3 linked regions of the Homo sapiens genome follow. The protein of the gene in region 1 interacts with the protein of each later gene in a pairwise test. Each region holds a gene or a part of one and is shown in the gene's direction. Other genes may lie near its edges.

The links.
Region 2: the proteins of NAP1L1 (region 1) and TTLL10 interact in binary tests that used the Homo sapiens proteins (3 or more experiments, as listed by UniProt).
Region 3: the proteins of NAP1L1 (region 1) and DLST interact in binary tests that used the Homo sapiens proteins (3 or more experiments, as listed by UniProt).

Annotation. Positions count from the first base shown.
Region 1 is NC_000012.12:76,053,597-76,060,712, reverse strand, and holds part of NAP1L1 (nucleosome assembly protein 1-like 1), read left to right. Parts: intron 1-433; coding exon 434-575; intron 576-834; coding exon 835-915; intron 916-4,551; coding exon 4,552-4,680; intron 4,681-5,622; coding exon 5,623-5,694; intron 5,695-6,803; coding exon 6,804-6,943; intron 6,944-7,116. UniProt on the Homo sapiens protein: Histone chaperone that plays a role in the nuclear import of H2A-H2B and nucleosome assembly.
Region 2 is NC_000001.11:1,190,842-1,197,957, forward strand, and holds the end of TTLL10 (inactive polyglycylase TTLL10), read left to right. Parts: intron 1-3,765; coding exon of another isoform or gene 3,766-3,867; exon of another isoform or gene 3,868-4,194; intron 4,195-5,758; coding exon 5,759-5,875; intron 5,876-6,251; coding exon 6,252-6,345; intron 6,346-6,596; coding exon 6,597-7,006; 3' UTR 7,007-7,095; downstream 7,096-7,116. UniProt on the Homo sapiens protein: Inactive polyglycylase.
Region 3 is NC_000014.9:74,898,800-74,904,243, forward strand, and holds the end of DLST (dihydrolipoyllysine-residue succinyltransferase component of 2-oxoglutarate dehydrogenase complex, mitochondrial isoform 1 precursor), read left to right. Parts: intron 1-1,123; coding exon 1,124-1,197; intron 1,198-1,489; coding exon 1,490-1,573; intron 1,574-2,266; coding exon 2,267-2,434; intron 2,435-3,396; coding exon 3,397-3,531; 3' UTR 3,532-4,944; downstream 4,945-5,444. UniProt on the Homo sapiens protein: Dihydrolipoamide succinyltransferase (E2) component of the 2-oxoglutarate dehydrogenase complex. The 2-oxoglutarate dehydrogenase complex catalyzes the overall conversion of 2-oxoglutarate to succinyl-CoA and CO(2).

The DNA of each region.
Region 1 (7,116 bases):
AAAAAAATAATGGTGTGTGGAATCTTGTCCTTTTTCCTGATATGTCTATGCTCCCCTCCTTTTTCCTAATAACTTGTATGGGTGAGATATATGTAAAAGAAAAATCCAAGTAATCATTGTTCTCAGAATTAAGATGGTCTGTCCATGACTTCAGCAATGACAAGTCCAACACTTAACTTGGGTAAAGATTTAGGGTTGACAATATGATTTACATTTTGTTTATCAATTTACCCAGTTACATTTCTACTTTTGAAATATAGCCAGTGGATCAATGTATTTATATCTATTTGATTTTTATTTACTTTGAATCTACCTTTTGCTTCAGATAAAAAACCTGTCATTCACTAACTCCAATGCTTCAGTTTCAGTATGACAAAAGAAGTGTGACTTCCATTTTACTCTGATGCTATATAACTGATTTCTAACCTTTCAGCCTGCCTAGGGTAGTTAAAAGACGAGTGAATGCTCTCAAAAACCTGCAAGTTAAATGTGCACAGATAGAAGCCAAATTCTATGAGGAAGTTCACGATCTTGAAAGGAAGTATGCTGTTCTCTATCAGCCTCTATTTGATAAGGTAATGCTTTCTCCTACTTTGTTTAATTTAACATTCTAGAAGACGAATTCTAGAAACATAAGCAGACTTGGAAGAGGTTAATCTTTAGAACTCTCATTGAAATTGTTATTAGAGGCAGCACTTGGAGGAACTATCAATAATAGCAGTTAAAGTTGTGGTATGCATTTGTTAAATTTGTAAGACTTCTTAGTGAGAAACCACTGGTTTTAGCTTGGATGCCAGTGTTTTTATACAGCCTTTTTTTTTTAAATCATTTTAGCGATTTGAAATTATTAATGCAATTTATGAACCTACGGAAGAAGAATGTGAATGGAAACCAGATGAAGAAGATGAGATTTCGGTTAGTACCAACTTTATTTTGGTATGTTTTTAAGATGATAAAATCTTAGGACTTGTCAGAAATGTTAGCATTTAATGATGGAGTACAATATTATATAACCAGTTGTATTTTTTCATTTTTTAATTTTACGTCTTTATTACACGTTTTTCTATTACTTTATTTTTAAAAAACAGTCATTCAAGATTGTAATTTGCATGGCAATAAGCAGCGGTTTCATGGGTTCTAAGTTTCTTAAGTGTCCACAGCAGTTTAAAACACCACAAGTCTTATTTCCAATTTGCAGCACCTGACTTAAAGTTCGAATTCATCTGATGGAGCATTAAAACTGTCATTTTCTCTTGTGAAAAGACATAATTGCTATTTCCAGGACTGTATATTGAACATGGTTGTACATTATTTTTAATTGGTTAGTAGAATTTTACTCATGTAATTTATATCCAGAATAAGAACCTCTAGCATCTCTGAATGGCCTTCCTCTCAGAACGATGATGATTAAATGTCTAAAATGTATCTGGGGTGCCCCCACTTGACATTACCAAACATGTTTCCAAATAATCTTAGAAAATATGATTCTTTAAACATATGCATACCACATCTTTAAACATAAACATACCACACAGTGCACCATCACTTCCTTAACCATTTTCCAATTGTTCACTTATAACATTTGCAATTTTTTATTATAAATCATATTGTGATGAATACTTTCATCCATAAGTTTTATTGCAAGGCTTATTGTTTCTTCTAATGTCTTCTAATTTCAAAGAAGTGGCTTACTGGTTCAAACAGTGCACATACGTGGTTTTAAGGCTTTTAGTATACTTTACCAAATAATCTCCAGAATAGCTCCAACAACTCCTACCAACAGTATGTTATTGTGCCCATAGGGTGGACTTGATAACAGCAAAGCAAATTCAACCACAGATATATTAGATTCTCACCCATCTCAAAACTATCACATCAGAGAAGCAAGGAGACATATTATTGGTGAGGAAGCCAAATTCAAATTCTTTTAAAAAATCACTCAGCTTTAGATCAGTAAAATAATCAACAAAAATGGTCACCGCAAAGTCTACCGGGTTTTTCAAAAAATAAAAAGAGAGAAAGAGAAAGGCCAGGCGCAGTGGCTCATGCCTGTAATCCCAGCACTTTGGGAGGCCTAGGTGGGCCAATCACTAGGTCAGGAGTTCGAGACCAGCCTGGCCAACATGGTGAAATCCCATCTCTACTAAAAATACAAAATATTAGCTGGGTGTGGAGGCGGGTGCCTCTAATCCCACCTACTCGGGAGGCTCAGGCAGGAGAATCACTTGAACTCGGGAAGTCGAGGTTGCAGTGAGCCGAGATCGCACCACTGCGCTCCAGCCCAGGCGACAGTGTGAGACTCCGTCTCAAAAAAAAAAAAAAAAAGTACCAAATAACCAAAATTTTTTATTTGACTAAATTCTGTTCATGTATGAGCATGACAGTCTCTCCTGTTTATTTGACTTTGGCAATAAAAAAATAAGCAGCCTTGTACAGAACAGGGAAAATGCCAAGAACGAAGGCAGTCTACAGTTTTACTGTAGAATACATATATATATATATATATATATATATATATGTAGGCCTCTCTCCCTTTGGCCATATCTACTGTCAGTTCAGGCCATTAACTACAGACAAATTTTCAAATTCACTTCTTCTCCAAGATCTTCGATGCTGTCATCATCTACTTCTGTCTGTTTTTCCTGAATGACCTCAATTATGTCATCTGTAAAGTCTCCTTGAATGATAATTTCATCCTCCTCTGTTACTGAGGCACCACAGGAGAATTTTTGAGCAAAAAATCTTTGTGTGATTTAAGATCAATTTCAAAAGTTACAAGGCCACAACCCTTGTCACATATTTCTTTGCTCTGGGAATTTTGGCTATAGTAACCTTTTGTGGTACCGTCTTTGTTTTTTTGTTTTATTTGACCCCTTCCACCTCTCTTCTGTTTTTTCTTCTCCTCTTCTTCCCCTGCTGTTCCTTGACCTTGACAGATTCCAGCTTCTTGTTTGGGTGAATTTTCCACAGTAAGTTTTGCATATTCATTTGGAAAATTCTTCTCTAATCATTGTCTACATTTAGCAACATCAGGCATATATTCACAGTACTCTATTGGTAATGAACAGACTCCACAATAAAGGACTCAAAGTAGGTAATCAGCATCTAACTTGGCTCTGTTCCTTGGGTCTCCTTTGCAGTCAGCCCTATTGGAATCGGAAACGTCAGCAGCCATTTCACAAACCCAGGCAGTTGCACAGGCCCCGCCAGCTCTGCTCCCGCCACTGTTGCCAGCTGAGCCGACAAATGCAACTCGTTTCCCCGGCCAGGGCCTCCCTAGAGCATCAGTTGTATTTTTATACCTAGGAAATATTTTTCCTTTTTGTAAGAATGATAATGCAGATGAACTGTTATTCAACCTGGCACCACCATCTGTACTCAAAAAGTCATTATTTCCTTACATTTTATAGTTTTTTTGTTTAAGAGACAGGGACTTGCTGTGTTGCCCAGGCTGGAGTACACTGGCATGATCTTGGCTCACTGCAGCTCATTCCTGGGCCCAAGCTATTCTCCCACCTCAGCCTCCCAAGTTGCTAGGACTATCTGAAGCTACTATGCCCAGCTTAATCTACTTTTTTTTGTAGAGGCAGAGTCTTCTTGCCTAGGCTGGTCTTAGACTCCTGGCTTCAAGCAATCTTCGCACCTCAGCCTCCCAAACTGTTGGGATTATGGGCTTGAACCACTGAGCCACTGTGCCCAGCCTATTTTTATAGTTTTTTTGAGTCTCTGTTGCCCAGGCTGGAGTGCAGTCTCGGCTTATTGCAACCTCCACCTCCTGGGTTCAAGCAATTCTTCTGCCTCCTTCTCCCAGTAACTGGATAACAGGCGTGCGCCACCATGCCTGACTAATTTTTTGTACTTTTAGTAAAGATGGGGTTTCGCCATGTTGGCCAGGCTGGTCTCCAACTCCTGACCTTAAATGATCCACCCACCTCACTTCCCAAAGTGCTGGGATTACAAGCGTGAGCCACTGCGCCTGGCTTACAGTTTTTAGTTTGTAGATTCATTATATTCTTTTTTTTTTTTTAACTTCATGGTAGGCTGAGGATTGTTGCCATTTTCAAGTGAAGACATGGAGGCTTCTAAGTGACTTGCCCACAATGAATAATGGCAGAGCTGTGACACACATTCAGTGCTGTGTTAAGTGTTCCACCTCTCTAGCATTGCTATTTTATGTTGTTTGGTAAAGAGAATATAATGTTTTGATTAAGAACACCATGGGGTGAGGCAATGGACCAAATTAGTATTTCTGTTGCTTTTCTTGTTTATTATGCTTAAGTCTTCATTTTTAATTAGTTTTTACATTTTTTTTTTACTAAAATGGTTTTTCCTACACATCTTGGTCACCTTAGTGGTTCTCTTTGGAGGGGTGTGGTAGCAGTAATTTTGATGGGATTAAGGTTTGTTATGGGCAACGGCGGTGTTTACACAGATAGACTAGAACTTTGAAGGTAATATCTGGTGACTGTGCTTTTTGGTTTTTATACCTTTGCTACTTTATCATGAGGTCTAATCTATGTATTAAATAATGTTTGCTGTCACTTAATCAAGGAGGAATTGAAAGAAAAGGCCAAGATTGAAGATGAGAAAAAAGATGAAGAAAAAGAAGACCCCAAAGGAATTCCTGAATTTTGGTTAACTGTTTTTAAGAATGTTGACTTGCTCAGTGATATGGTTCAGGTAATTTTATTCATAAATGTACCAGTTTACTTTGAAGGGTAAACCTTTGAAGTTTAAATGGCTGTGATCACTGTTCTCTTCAGTGTTGATCTTTCTAGAATGATTGCTTACTTTTGAAATAGCTAATATCTGTAGAAGAGAAATTACAGCTTTGATTAATGTAATCAAATAAATTAGTTTATTTTAAAAAATGAGATAATGAAATGGTCCCATTGATAATGGCTCATTATCGACTGGTGTTTTCTTATAACCCTGTGCCTTTTGTCTTTACATACTTAGTATGGAAGTATGATGGGAAAGTTAATCTTATAGCTGCAATTATGCAATTCCCTTAACTCTTCCAGGAGAAATTTGCATTTTAAAAGAATACCATAAAGATGTTAAACTCATTCACAATGGTTACATTCTCTGGCAAACCATAACTGTTGTCACCTTTGGGAAACTGCCTCAAGCATTTCTTGAGTGAGCCCCTACCGTCTACATTGTAGTAGTACATGTTGCCCTGTCTTGTCATTGTTGGAAGTTACATGGAGAAAAAGAAATGATCTTCACACAATTACTGCTTATTACAATTCTACTTTAGCAAAGTGGAAAAGGAACGACCAGGAGGAAGGGGACAAGCAGCTGGAAAAGGCAGCAATTACAATCAGGAAACATTTTAAAAGTAGATATGCCTTATTTAGACTTGATTTTGGATTTTTCAACCTATATAATAATTCAGTTGTCTATTTGGACACTTTTTCTCTACCAGTGGCAGTAGAACTACAGTATAAATTAGCTTTAGTATAAGCCATAACCTGGAGAGTAAGTCTTAAGGTTCATAATTGCTATACAAAACTACTTTGAAATATATTATGTCTCAGTCAGCTGGTGTTTGTGTAGTAACAGAACACAGTCCTCGAATGCCATGTTATTCATTTTTATTATTTTTTTAATTTGAAGGAACACGATGAACCTATTCTGAAGCACTTGAAAGATATTAAAGTGAAGTTCTCAGATGCTGGCCAGCCTATGGTAAAAGAACTTTGAAATATTTATAATTTTGTAACATGCTTACAGGTAGATAAATAGAAGCTTTTAAAAAGATAACATTCAAGGGTAAGGTTGGTGCTCTTTGTTATAGTGAATAAATATTTGGATGCTGCTAATTGTGAGGCAGTATTTATTCCTTTTCCTCCTTCTGATCATAAATTGTGTTTGAAACACAGACAATCCTTGTTCCTGGATAAGTGGATAAAAATAATGCCAAGGGAACATGAATAAGTACTTTTTCTGCATTAAAAGGCATGAGCTTGGGAATTACACAAAACTGATGTTAGAGGATGCCCACTCCCTAATGAGGAAAGATCAGCCAACAAGCTGTCCACCAAACCACCAGAATTAATGTCAACTAAGGGCAAAACTGCTAAGAATATAGGCTGTAGATGCTTAAGGTTGGGCTTTTTCTGTGTCAAGTTCACGTTTAGTCTACTATTTAAAAGCCTGATTCCTCCAGTAGTTGGGGAGTAAGGGAGGCAACATGGTCACTTTATTCAGGAATGCCTAGCCTGTTGTGTAAACATGTTAATTATTTAATAGATGTAAATTGAAACTAAGTTCTATTCAGTTCAATTTGTACCTCATTATTATTTTAACGTAATTTTTTTGATTTTAACATAATTTGGGGCTCATCTGACAGTCTGTCCCATTCTTAAATATTTCATGGCTGGGTGCAGTGGCTCACACCTGTAATCCCAGCACTTTGGGAGGCCGAGGTGGGTGGATCACTTGAGGTCCGGAGGTCAATACCAGCCTGTCCAACGTGGTGAAACACTGTCTGTACTAAAAATACAAAAATTAACTGGGTGTGGTGGCACACACCTATAATCCCAGATAATTGGCAGGCTGGCGCACCAGAATCACTTGAATCTGGGAGGCAAAGGTTGCAGTGAGCTGAAATTGTGCCCCTGCACTCCGGCCTGGGCAACAATGCAAGACTCAGTCTCAAAAAGAAGATTGTATTTCAGAGTAGAAAAAAAAATTATCATTTAGAATATTTATAAAAACAGATGAAGCTGTGTTTACTAAAGTACTGAAATATGTGAGGTAGGTATTTAACTGATTTTTATGCTTCCTCTCCCCAGAGTTTTGTCTTAGAATTTCACTTTGAACCCAATGAATATTTTACAAATGAAGTGCTGACAAAGACATACAGGATGAGGTCAGAACCAGATGATTCTGATCCCTTTTCTTTTGATGGACCAGAAATTATGGGTTGTACAGGGTGAGTTTAATTTTACTACCTTAACAAAATGTTTTTTCTGTTTTTGTTATACTTGATTTGTATACTCGGTTATTTTCAGTTACATATGTACATAGTCTGTCTCTGAACATTTTGGTAATATGTTTTCTGAAAAGTGCTTATCAAGTTTCCTGTAATTCTCCTTGGACCCATGA
Region 2 (7,116 bases), on another chromosome or scaffold:
TGAGATGGAGTTTCGCTCTTGTCACCTAGGCTGGAGTGTAATGGCGCAATCTCAGCTCACTGCAGCCTCTGCCTCCCGGGTTCAAGCGATTCTCCTGCCTCAGCCTCCCGAGTAGCTGGGATTACAGGCACCTGCCACCACGCCTGGCTAATTTTGTTTGTATTATTAGTAGAGATGGGGGTTTCACCATGTTGGCCAGGCTGGTCTTGAACTCCTGACCTCAGGTGATCCGCCTGCCAAAGTGCTGGGATTATAGGCGTGAGCCATGATGCTCAGCTGCAAAGTATTTTAAATTTCCTTTGTAAGCTTTTCTTTGACCCATTGGTTGCTTAAGGGCCTGTTATTTAATTTCCACATATTTGTGATTTTTCCAATTTTCCTTCTGTTATTGACTTCTAATTTCATTCCATTGTGTCAGAGAACATACTTTATAATTTCAACCCTTTAAAAATTATTGAAAAATTATTGGAGCTGGTGTGTTGGCACATACCTGTAATTCCAGCTACTCAGGAGGCTGAGATGGAAACATTGCTTAAGCCCAGGAGTTTGAGTCCAGCCTGGGCAACACAGCAAAACCCCATCTTTAAAAAAACAACAAACTTACTATTCATTAAGTGGATCATTAAAAAACAAAAACAAAAAACACTTGAAACTTGTTTATGTCCCAGCATATGGTCTATCCTGGAGAATATCCATGTGCACTGGAGAAGGAGGTGTATCCTGTTTTTGGGTGTAGTGTTCTGTAGATGTCTGTGCCGAGACCAGCTCGGTCGGGGAGACCCTAACCCGGCGGCGCTAGAGGAATTAAAGACACACACAGAGAAATACAGAGGTGTGAAGTGGGAAATCAGGGGCCTCACAACCTTCAGAGCTGACAGCCCTGAACAGAGATTTACCCACATATTTAGTAACAGCAAACCAGTCATAGCATTGTTTCTATAGATATTCAGTTAACTAAAAGTATCCCTTACGGGAAACGAAGGGATGGGCCAAATTAAAGGAATAGGTTGGGCTAGTTAACTGCATCAGGAACACGCCCTTAAGACACAGATCGCTCCTGCTATTGTTTGTGGCTTAAGAACGCCTTTCAGCGGTTTTCCGCCCTGGGCGGGCCAGGTGTTCCTTGCCCTCATTCCCGTCAACCCACAACCTCCCAGCGTGGGCGTTAGGGCCATTGTGAACATGTCACAGTGCTGCAGAGATTTGTTTATGGCCAGTCTTGGGGCCAGTTTATGGCCAGATTTTGGGGGGGGGCCTGCTCCCAACATGTCTGTTAGGTCTGTTTGGTTTATAATGTTGTTCGAGTCTTCTATTTACTCGTTAATCTTCTGTCTCTGTATTGAAAGCGGGATATTCAGTTGTCTACTTCTCCCTTCAGATCTGTCAGTTTTTTGTATATTTCGAGGCTCTGTTGTTGGGTGTGTGTATGTTTATGATTATTAGATCTTCTTGGTTTATCGTTATAAAAATTTTCCTTTAATCTGCAGTAATAATTTTTGTGTAAAGTCTATTTTCTGTGATATGAGTGTAGACACTCCAGTTGGTATAAGTGTAGACACTCCAGTTGATATGAATGTAGACACTCCAGTTGGTATGAGTGTAGACACTCCAGTTGGTATGAGTGTAGACACTCCAGTTCGTATCAGTGTAGACACTCCAGTTGATATCAGTGTAGACACTCCAGTTGGTATGAGTGTAGACACTCCAGTTGGTATGAGTGTAGACAATCCAGTTGATATCAGTGTAGACACTCCAATTGATATCAGTGTAGACACTCCAGTTGGTATGAGTGTAGACACTCCAGTTGGTATGAGTGTAGACACTCCAGTTCGTATCAGTGTAAACACTCCAGTTGGTATGAGTGTAGACACTCCAGTTGATATCAGTGTAGACACTCCAGTTGGTATGAGTGTAGACACTCCAGTTGTTCATATCAGTGTAGACACTCCAGTTGGTATGAGTGTAGACACTCCAGTTGGTATGAGTGTAGACACTCCAGTTGGTATGAGTGTAGACACTCCAGTTCTACTTTGGTTACCGTGTGTGGTACATCTTTTTCCATCCCTTTACTTTCCACCTATTTTTGTCTCTGAAACTAAAGTATCTTTTGTAGATGGTATATCATGTTTTTTTAAGAAACTCCGTCAATGTCTATTAATTGGAAAGTTTAATTCACTTACATTTAATATAATTACTGATAAAGGGCCGGGCACGGTGGCTCACGCCTGTAATGCCAGCCCTTTGGGAGGCCAAGGCAGGTGGATCACAAGGTCAGGGATTGAGACCATCCTGGCTAACACGGTGAAACCCCGTCTCTACTAAAAATACAAAACATTAGCCAGGCGTGGTGGTGAGCAACTGTAGTCCCAGCTGCTCGGGAGGCTGAGGCAGGAGAATGGCGTGAACCCAGGAGGCGGAGCTTGCAGTGAGCCAAGATTGCGCCATTGCACTCCAGCCTGGGTGACAGAGCGAGACTCCGTCTCAAAAAATAATAATAATAATAATTACTGATAAGGTAGGATTTACATATGCTATTTTGTTATTTGTTTTCTATGTCTGTCTTTTTTTGTTCCTCAGTTTCTCCATTACTGCCTCCTATTGTTTTAGAGAGATATTTTCTAGTGTAGCTTTTTTTTTTTGAAACGGAGTTTCGCTCTTGTTGCCCAGGCTGGAGTGCAGTGGCGTGATCTCGGCTCACTGCAGCCCCCGCCTCCCGGATTCAAGCGATTCTCCTGCCTCAGCCTCCCTAGTAGCTGGGATTACAGGCGCATGCCACCACACCCGGCTAATTTTTTGTATTTTTAGTAGAGACGGGGTTTCACTATGTTGGCCAGGCTGATCTCAAACTGCTGACCTCAGGTGATCTACCCGCCTCAGCTTCCCAGGGTGCTGGGATTACAGGCGTGAGCCACCACGCCTGGCTTAGTGTAGCATTTTAATTACCTTGTCATTTATTTTACTATATGTTTTTGAGTTATTTTAGTGGTTGTCCTGAGGATTACCATTAATATTGTATCTTAATTTACTACAATTAGGGTGAGTGTGGTGGCTTATGCCTGTAATCCCAGTGCTTTGGGAGGCTGAGGCAAGAAGATCATATGAGGCCAGGCATTTGAAAGCAGCCTGGGCAACATAGTGAGACCCCATCTCTAAAAAACAAAATTAGCTCAGCATGGGAGTGTGCACCTGTAGTCCTCCTAGCTATTTAGGGGGCTGAGATGGGAGGATCACTTGAGCCCAGGAGGTCAAGGCTGCAGTGAGCCACAATCAAACCACATTACCCCAGCCTAGGTGACAGAACAAGACCCTGTTTCTAAAATAAAAAATGTTTTAAAATAAACAATTCAGTTTTTTATTAATACCAAGTTAATTTCAAAAGCATACAAAAACACACTGCTCCTAAAAGTATACAAAAACACTCCTCCTACACAGCCCCACCCCTCTCATGCTGTTGTCACAAATTACAGCTCAGTATATTTGTGTCCATCAACATGGATTCATAATTATTGTTGTATACAGTTGTCTTTTAGGACAAAACAATCACATACAAAAAAATACATGTATGCTGTCTCTTATATTTAATTACACAATGACCTTTTCTGGGGCTCTTTATTTCCTCCTGTGAGTTCCAGTTACTGTCTAGTGTCTTTTCATTTCAGCCTGAAGGACGGTAGGGCGGGTCTACCTTTGTTTATCTGGGAATGTCTTAATCTCCCCTTCATTTTTGAAGCAGCTTTTGCTAGATGTAGAATTTTTGGTCAACAGTATTTTTACTTTTGGGAATTTGTGCCATCCCACTGCCTGCCCACCTCACGACCTCTAATGAGAAACTGGCTGTTCATCTTTCTGTGGATGCCTCATACATAACGAGCGGCTTCTCTCCTGCTGATTTCGACGTTCTCTGTCTTTTGGAAGTTTGCTGATGAGGTGGTGGATCTCTGAGTTTATCCTACTTTGAGTTCATTGAGCTTCTTGAATGTGTAGGTTGTTTTTCATTAAACTGGGAAGTTTTCTGCCATTATTTTTTCAAATATTGTTTCTGCTCCTTTCTCTTCTCTCCTTCTGGGACTCCCATTATGCATATGTTGGTCCATTTGACAGTGTCCCACCCACAAGTCTCTGAGGCTTTATTTTTCTTCCCTCTCTCTCTCTCTTTCATTTTTTGTTTTGAGACAGGGTTTCTGTCACCCAAGATGGAGTGCAGTGGTGCAATCTCAGCTCACTGCAGCCTCCTCCTTCTGGGCTCAAGCAATCCTCCGGCCTACCAGCCTCCCAAGTAGCTGGGACTACAGGCACGCACCATCACATCTGGCTAATTTTTGTATATTTAGTAGAGACGAGGTTTCACAATGTTGGCCAGGCTGGTCTCAAACTCCTGACCTCAAGCGATCCCCCTGCCTTGGCCTCCCAAAGTGCTGGGATTACAGGTGTGAAGCCACTGCACCCGGCCTCCTTTTTCTTTCTGTTCCTCAGACTAAATAATCTCAATTGGCCTATCTGCAAACAATTCAAATCTGCTGTTGAGCACTTCTAGTGCATGTTTTATTTGTTCTACTTTTGTTCTACTTTTCAACTTCAGAATTTCTATTTGATTCTCTTTTATAATTTTTCTCTCTTCACCAGTATTCTCTATTATTTGATAAGACATCATCGTCATACTTTTTTTTTTTTTTTTTTAGTTTTAGTAGAGGCAGGGTTTCACCATGTTGGCAAGGCTTGTCTCGAACTCCTGACCTCAGGTGATCCACCCACCTCAGCTTCCCAAAGTGCTGGGATTACAGACGTGAGCCACTGTGCCCGGCCCATACTTCTTTTTTTTAGACAGTCTCACTGTGTCACCCAGGCTAGAGTGCAGTGGCACAATCTCAGCTTACCACAGCCTCTGCCTCTTGGGCTCAAGCAGTCCTCCCACCTCAGCCTCCCAAGTAGGTGGGACTACAGGCATACACCACCACGCTTAGCTAATTTTGCTAATTTTTTGGTAGAGACAAGGTCTCCCTATATTGCCCAGGCTGATCTCAGACTCCTGAGCTCAAGCGATCCTCCTGCCTCAGCCTCCCAAAGTGCTGGGACTACAGGTGTGAGCCACGCGCCCGACCAACTTGTGTATTTCTAGTAGAGATGGGGTCTCACCATGTTGGCCAGGCTGGTCTCAAACTCCTGAGCTCAAGCAATCCTCCTGCCTCAGCCTCCCAAACTGCTGGGACTACAGGTGTGAGCCACGTGCCTGGCCCTCACACTTTCTGTTAGTCCTTTCAAATGGGATCTTCCAAGGAACTACTAGACATAAGAAAACAAATAATGACAATTTTTTTTTATAAATGAGGTCTATTTTGCTATCTCCAGTTCTGGGGATGCATGCTGTTGGTTTTTTGAGGCAACCATTGAGCTGGGGAGCAGAGGATGAAACCAGAGCACGTTAAAATACAACATAATTCACAGTTCTTACCAAGATTCGAGATTTTACGTATCCCATTTGCTATCCGTCTCTTCTGCTCAAGGGCAGAGATTTCCTGTGAGTTTTCCTCACTCTCGTATCTCCAGTGCCTGACACAGGACAGGAGCTGCACGAGTTTGTTGAGTGAGTTTCTGGCTGTGAACCTGTGAGGCTGAGTGCACGAACGTGTGGGCAGGTGTGGCTGTACAGGTGCGGGTTCAGATGGGAGTGCAGGTGAGGGATGTGGCTGTGGCTGTTCAGACCTGGGGTGTGATCAGGGCCTACGGGCCGCAGCCAGGATGCCTCCCTGCCTCCCTGCAGAAGCGGATGCAGCAGATCATGGCCCACTGCTTTCTGGCCGCCAAGCCCAAGCTGGACTGCAAGCTGGGTTACTTTGACCTCATTGGCTGTGACTTCCTGATTGATGACAACTTCAAGGTGCTGTCCTGGGCGGCGGGGGGCACAGTAGACAGATGCAAGGAGGCAGGGGCCATCTGTACACCCTGACCACACTGGCAGGCCCCAGGCAGAATCTGCAGTCAGCCCCCACCCTGCCTGCATGCAGCCCTGGGGATGGGTGTATCCATGAGGCTCACCCCCTGTGCAGCTAGGATGGAACTGCACCCCCTCCTCAGAGCAGCCCCCTCAGGCCAGAGCTTCAGACCCTCAGAGCTTCAGTGGACAAACAGGGGAGCAAGGCTATAGGAAGGAAGCAATCTCCCAGAGCCATCTGTCTGAATGAGGACCAGGGCCTCTGCCTCCTGCTGGCCCAGTGGGCTCGGGGTGAGGAGGGACTGACTGGCGTCTGGGGCAGGTATGGCTGCTGGAGATGAATTCTAACCCAGCCCTGCACACCAACTGCGAGGTCCTGAAGGAGGTCATCCCAGGTGTGGTCATCGAGACCCTGGGTGAGCCTCCAAGCCCCCACCCCACACCCCCACAACCTGCCCAGTCTTGAATGCCTACCTGCCCTCTTCCCAAGTTCAGACCCCCACAGATGGGGCTCTTCCACCTCCCGAGGGCCTGTGTGGCAGCGCCGCCCCCTGCCCCAACCTTCCCCACACCTCAGCTCACCTGGGTCCCACCCCTCACACCCTCCCCACCCCCTCCAGCCCCAGCCTCTGCCCCCCACTCACCCTCTCTCCCCCACCCGCACCAGACCTGGTGCTCGAGACCTTCCGGAAGAGCCTGCGCGGCCAGAAGATGTTGCCTCTGCTGTCCCAGCGCCGCTTCGTGCTCCTGCACAACGGTGAGGCCGACCCGCGGCCGCACCTGGGGGGCTCGTGCAGCCTCCGCCGCTGGCCGCCCCTGCCCACCCGCCAGGCCAAGTCCTCCGGGCCACCCATGCCGCATGCCCCAGACCAGCCGGGCGCCCGCAGGCCTGCGCCACCTCCCTTGGTGCCGCAGCGTCCCCGGCCACCCGGCCCCGACCTGGACAGCGCCCACGATGGGGAGCCCCAGGCCCCGGGCACGGAGCAGTCGGGCACAGGCAACAGGCACCCGGCGCAAGAGCCTTCCCCGGGGACAGCCAAGGAGGAACGCGAGGAGCCTGAGAACGCGAGGCCCTAGGGGCAGCCACCCGCGCCCAGCGCCCCGCGCCCCGCGCCCCAGCCGTGCTGCCTGCCCTCAGGGACCTATAAAGCCCACTTTGCTACAAACACAGTCTCTGCAGCAGAGTC
Region 3 (5,444 bases), on another chromosome or scaffold:
GTGTTCTGGCTTCCTCCCCTCCCCCAGCTCCACAGGCCCTGTTACCTTGGGGCCTGACTTCCACAGTTGGTGTAGGCTCCTGGCTGACCTTTGATCTTAGGTCGATGGGCCTCACTGGGAGCTTCGGCTTGGCCTCTCATGGACCTGGTGCTTATTTTCTTTCCTTTTTACTTACCTACGTCATTGTAGTGTTGACCTAACAAGCACTTTGTTTTCCTGTTGACACACTTCTCTGTTCCTTGGGAGATTGGAGAGGGGTCAGTGCTACTTTTGCCATCCTCAGCAGTGTCAGGGGCCCTAAAGGTCTAGAAGTAGAAGCCCTAGTCCCTCCTGTTGAGTGGTGCTCTAGGGAGGTAGAAGGCCATCTTTGTTTTGCCCAAATGTATACCTCTTCTTTTTCCCATTCTTCTCATGCCTCCCTGACTGGCTCTCATCTTTTTCAGTGGCCCCCTTCTGCTTGCCCACACATGTAGGCGGCTCTCAAAAGTTCTCGTGGCCTCTTTTTCACATTACATGCTTCCTCTGGATGTCTTATCTAACAATACAACATGGACTTTCTGCGGAAATGATTCCCAAGCCTTTATTTTCCCATTAGTTGCTAGGTGTACATTTTCAGATGCTGGTTTGCCATCTCTTGAGGTAGCATATTTCAAAGCCAGATCACCCCGCTTACTCTTGGATCTCCCCTCTTCCTCTTGTTGAGAGTTGGAAGCAGAGAATGGGTAGTATCTCTATATCCCTTTTCCTTTGCTAATTTGCCCTTTTTTGGAACATTTGTTAACCCTAGTCATTCTCTGCTAAAGGAGGGCTTGACTAGAGCTACTTAACGAGAGTTTAGTGCATACCTATCCTATGGAAGCCAGTGTGTTGAGCCCTTCTTAGGGCTGCCAAAGAAATGGATGCTCCTATGCCCAGGCTCAGTCAGGGACTTGGGAGATACTATACTTGGGATGGGAGTAAGTGGAATGCCAGCTGCCATGCATAATGCAGTGGTGTTCATGGTGGTTGGTCAGCCCACACTGTATCAAGCTCTGCAGATTTTTACTCTGTTAATGCACATATTACCTCATTAGTCTTGGCCTTCCTGGGGAGTTGTATGTAACATGTATTTTCTCTCTCATAGTGATTGACGACACAACCAAAGAGGTGGTGTATAGGGATTATATTGACATCAGTGTTGCAGTGGCCACCCCACGGGTATGTTGGGGCAGGAGGTGGGGAATGTTGGTCTTAGACCCTCACCTTATCTGTGTGAAGGAGATCACACAAGAGAAATCATTTCTTTAATTCTGTATTTTTAGAAGGGAGTTAGTAAAAGTAACCTTTTTTTTCTTTTAAACCATGCCGCATTCTTTTAACACTTTCTGTTAATCACACTGAGTAATGAAGGTATTCTAGGGAGGGCATACCATGGGTTGAATCAAGGGAGTTGTTAACTATAAAAGGTACTATTAATTTGCAACTGAAAACAGCTTTTCACCCCCTTCAGGGTCTGGTGGTTCCAGTCATCAGGAATGTGGAAGCTATGAATTTTGCAGATATTGAACGGACCATCACTGAACTGGGAGAGAAGGTAAAGTAGAAAGATGTATACAAGCTGCTAAGCAGGCGAGGGAAGAGAGCCTTCAGAAGGCTGGGCTCACTAGCAAGCAGTGCTCATGGAAAGTCAAGTGCATAGCCCCTGAGAAAAGCAGTTGCCCATGAGAGCTAAGTATTTTATATATCTGGTGGAGTTTACCATGCTCTGGTAACTGAAATCTCATCAGATGAGACCTGCTAGAAAAGATCATCTTTGAAGTCTTCAACTGTATGAAATTGTGCCTTTTCTCTGGTGGAGCACTGGTCATAGACACCTTAGCCGAACAACTGTCACACGGAAGCTAGCGCTTGTGCCATCGATCTCGATACAAGCTTTCTGGACTTCCTTTGCTTTTTTGTTTTTAGAGGCAGGGTCTCGCTGTGTTGCCCAGGCTGGAGTAGAGTGGTAGAGTCATAGCTTACTGCAGCCTTGCACTCCTGGGCTCAAGCGATTCTCCTGCCTCAGCCTCCCAAGTAGCTGGGACTACAGGTGTGCACCACCATGCCTGGCTAATTCTTAAGTTTTTTATACAGATGGGGGTCTCACTATGTTGCCCAGGTTGGCCTTGAACTCCTGGCCTCAAGCAGTCCTCCTGCCTCGGCCTCCCAAAGCGCTGGGATTATGGACTGACTTTAGGTGAAGGAAACTGGGTTGGCTTGATATTTCAATTATGAAATCTGTTTTTAGGCCCGAAAGAATGAACTTGCCATTGAAGATATGGATGGCGGTACCTTCACCATTAGCAATGGAGGCGTTTTTGGCTCGCTCTTTGGAACACCCATTATCAACCCCCCTCAGTCTGCCATCCTGGGGATGCATGGCATCTTTGACAGGCCAGTGGCTATAGGAGGCAAGGTAGGAACCGTCACTTCTAAGGTCCTAGTGGCTAGGTCTCGATGAAAGGGAAATCCAACTAAATGCTAATTGTAAAACATTAACTATAATTTCAGGCCTAAGTTCCATTTCTTAGTTTCTAATAGCTAAGGCACTGATTATCAAATTGTGGTCTGGATCAGCATCATCTGGGACCTTATTAGAAATGCATATTCTTAGACCCCATCCCAGACTTAAAGAAGAAGTGCAGATGATCCTGATGCATATTCAAGTTTGAGAACCACTGAGCTGAGGAGGCTTGTTTGCTTCTATGGAGTGGGGGATATAGTTGGAAACGTGGTCCCTTGCCCCTGGGAAACAGATGACAATTATGCATGTCAGTCTGTGAGCTGCCAAGTTGTATGATAAAGCTTGTAAATTTCCCGGGAGTTCAGAGAATTAAGTATTAAAAGGGGCTTGAGCTGGCCCTTAGAAGATACGTTGGTATCAAAAAAGCTTTCTGGGAACTCCTGTGTTTAGAATCCTTTTGGGTTACTGACTCCTGTGTGAAACCACAGTCTGTAGATCTTCCTGGAAAATGCCCATACACCCAGCTACACATACAATTCCAGAATTTGTAGACCCTGGCTTAATTTTTTTTTTTTTTTTTAAATTCTAACCCCAGAGAGAAGCAAGTACAGGCAGCCAGAACTGAAGGGAAAACTTTCCTTGTAGGCAGCAGATGCGTTAGAGGGCAGAGTATGTTTTTAAAAAATAAAAGGCAGTTGTGAGAAGACAGTTTTCTTGGCAAACTTTGTTTCTGAGTGGGGAAGCTTTGCACTGAGGGTAAGTCCTGGTCTTTGAAATACTGTAAATATGCAGAGGCAACATCAATAGGAAAGGCTCTGGAATTAGGAACTTTCTTATGGGCTGTGCTAAATCTCCTTCAGCGAGGCTGGCTGTGGCTTGCTGGAGACAAACCTATTTACCTTTCCTCTCTGTAGGTAGAGGTGCGGCCCATGATGTACGTGGCACTGACCTATGATCACCGGCTGATTGATGGCAGAGAGGCTGTGACTTTCCTCCGCAAAATCAAGGCAGCGGTAGAGGATCCCAGAGTCCTCCTCCTGGATCTTTAGGAGGAACCCACACACCCTACAAGTTGATCATGCAGGAACTGAAAACCAGTCTTCTCCCTGTCCCCTCATGGGTCCCGGGTTAGCCTGGTGACAGGCAGACACATGCTGTTGGCCTCAAGCAAGGAAGCAGAGCACTGTGTAACCAGCAGTCACAGGTCTTTTCTTGGCGTTCCTGCCAGGCTCTCCCTCTCTGCACCTGTCTCATAGCCTCGAATATCTTAATTCCTTAGGCTTAAGAGAGAGAGCCTTAATGGATGCTCATTCATATTCCTGCCTTTCTTCCATCAGCTCTCTGCAAAGATGATTTTGCTTTTCCCTAGTGCTGGTATACTATAGAGAAACCCCTGGGGACCATGTGATTAAGTTCCTATCTTTTGAAAGTTTGTTCTGCAGAGACTTCTAGGAGGATGCTGTGCCTCCCAAGCTCAGAGCAGCCTCTGTCCTGGCTGTGCACATTCTCCCTTGATTCCACTTGTGTGGAGGGATTGAACACAGGCAAAGAGGTGCTGCTTTGCTTCTTCAATGGCACCTTCATTCTCCGTTGTCATTGACTTCAAGATGCCTCTTCTACCTCTTCCAGGAAGCACAGGCCAGGGGATCTGGGTGTGTGAGTGGGAGGAGAGGGCAGAGGTCCCCTGAGGTCATGCATTGTAATCATCATAGAAGGAGAGCCCAGGCCTGCCCTCACGCTCTCCATCATAGGCTGACACCAAGAAGACTCGTCTTGGCACAATCTCACACAGCTGGGGCTGTAGCAACCCTTTCCAACCCCTTTGCTGGTTGCTGGGCCTCATTCTAGCACCTTGTTCTTAGAGCAGATTCTAGCACATCATGGCAGTGGGACCAAGCGTGGTCCCGAGGAAGGGCCAGAGCCTGGTAGAGACTAGGGAAGGGAGGTCTCCTCTAGACTGACTCACATTGCCTTGAGCTTTTCAGTTAAGTTGCTGTAAGCACCTGGGCTGAGGAGGCAGTTTTTGTTCCTTCCTGCGTTATAGCGGGGCCTTGTCTCTTCCTCTGCAGGACACAGATCTGGAGGACGTGGACTGGGGTAGGAAACCACCCTGAGGGTGTTAGTACCTAGTGGTGAAACGGATGAGGTCATTTCTAAGGTGTGTTGCCCGTGGATCTGGGCACAATCATTGGAATTCCTTGGAGCCACTGGGATTCATGGCTTTGTATCCAACTGCATCCAGGCCTGAGGCTGCTGACGTTTGACACCAGGGCCAGTAGAGAGTGCCCTTTTGTATCTTAAGCCAAGAAGTGAGGCCTGGGGGTGGGGGAGGGGGGAAGGGGTGGGAGCCAATACTGAGTGCCTGCAGCATCTACTACTCTGTCTTCACTATTCAGAACTTGTAACTAAAGTATTTAAAGAAACTGATTTTAAATGCAAATTAAAGGGCAGATATTCTCAAACAGGGTTCCTGTATCTGTTCCTTTTGGCTACTGAGGTGGTACAAGTCCCCAGCACTGTTGCACTGAAATTATTGAAAGCCACTCAAGGTCCTGTTGCTTATTTTGTGAAATCAGAAATCCCTTATGTGGAACTTAACACTCATAATTTGACAGAAGGTAGAACCCTGACTGCCAGCCGGGAAAGTGTTGCCAAAAAGAGTCAACCTCTGTAAAAATATTTGAAGAGATTTATTCTGAGCCAAGTGTGAGTGACTGATGGCCTGTGATACAACTCTTAGGAGATCCTGAGAACATGTGTCCAGGGTCGTCTGGCTACAACTTAGTTTTATACATTTAATACATTTTAGGGAGACATAAGATACCAGTCAGTACATGTAAGATGTACAGTGGTTTGGTCTGGAGAGGCAGGACAGCTCAAGACCTGGGGATGTTGTCATAGGCAGAATCAAAGATTTTCTGATTGGCAATTGGTTGAAAGAGTTATTATCTAAAGACCTGGA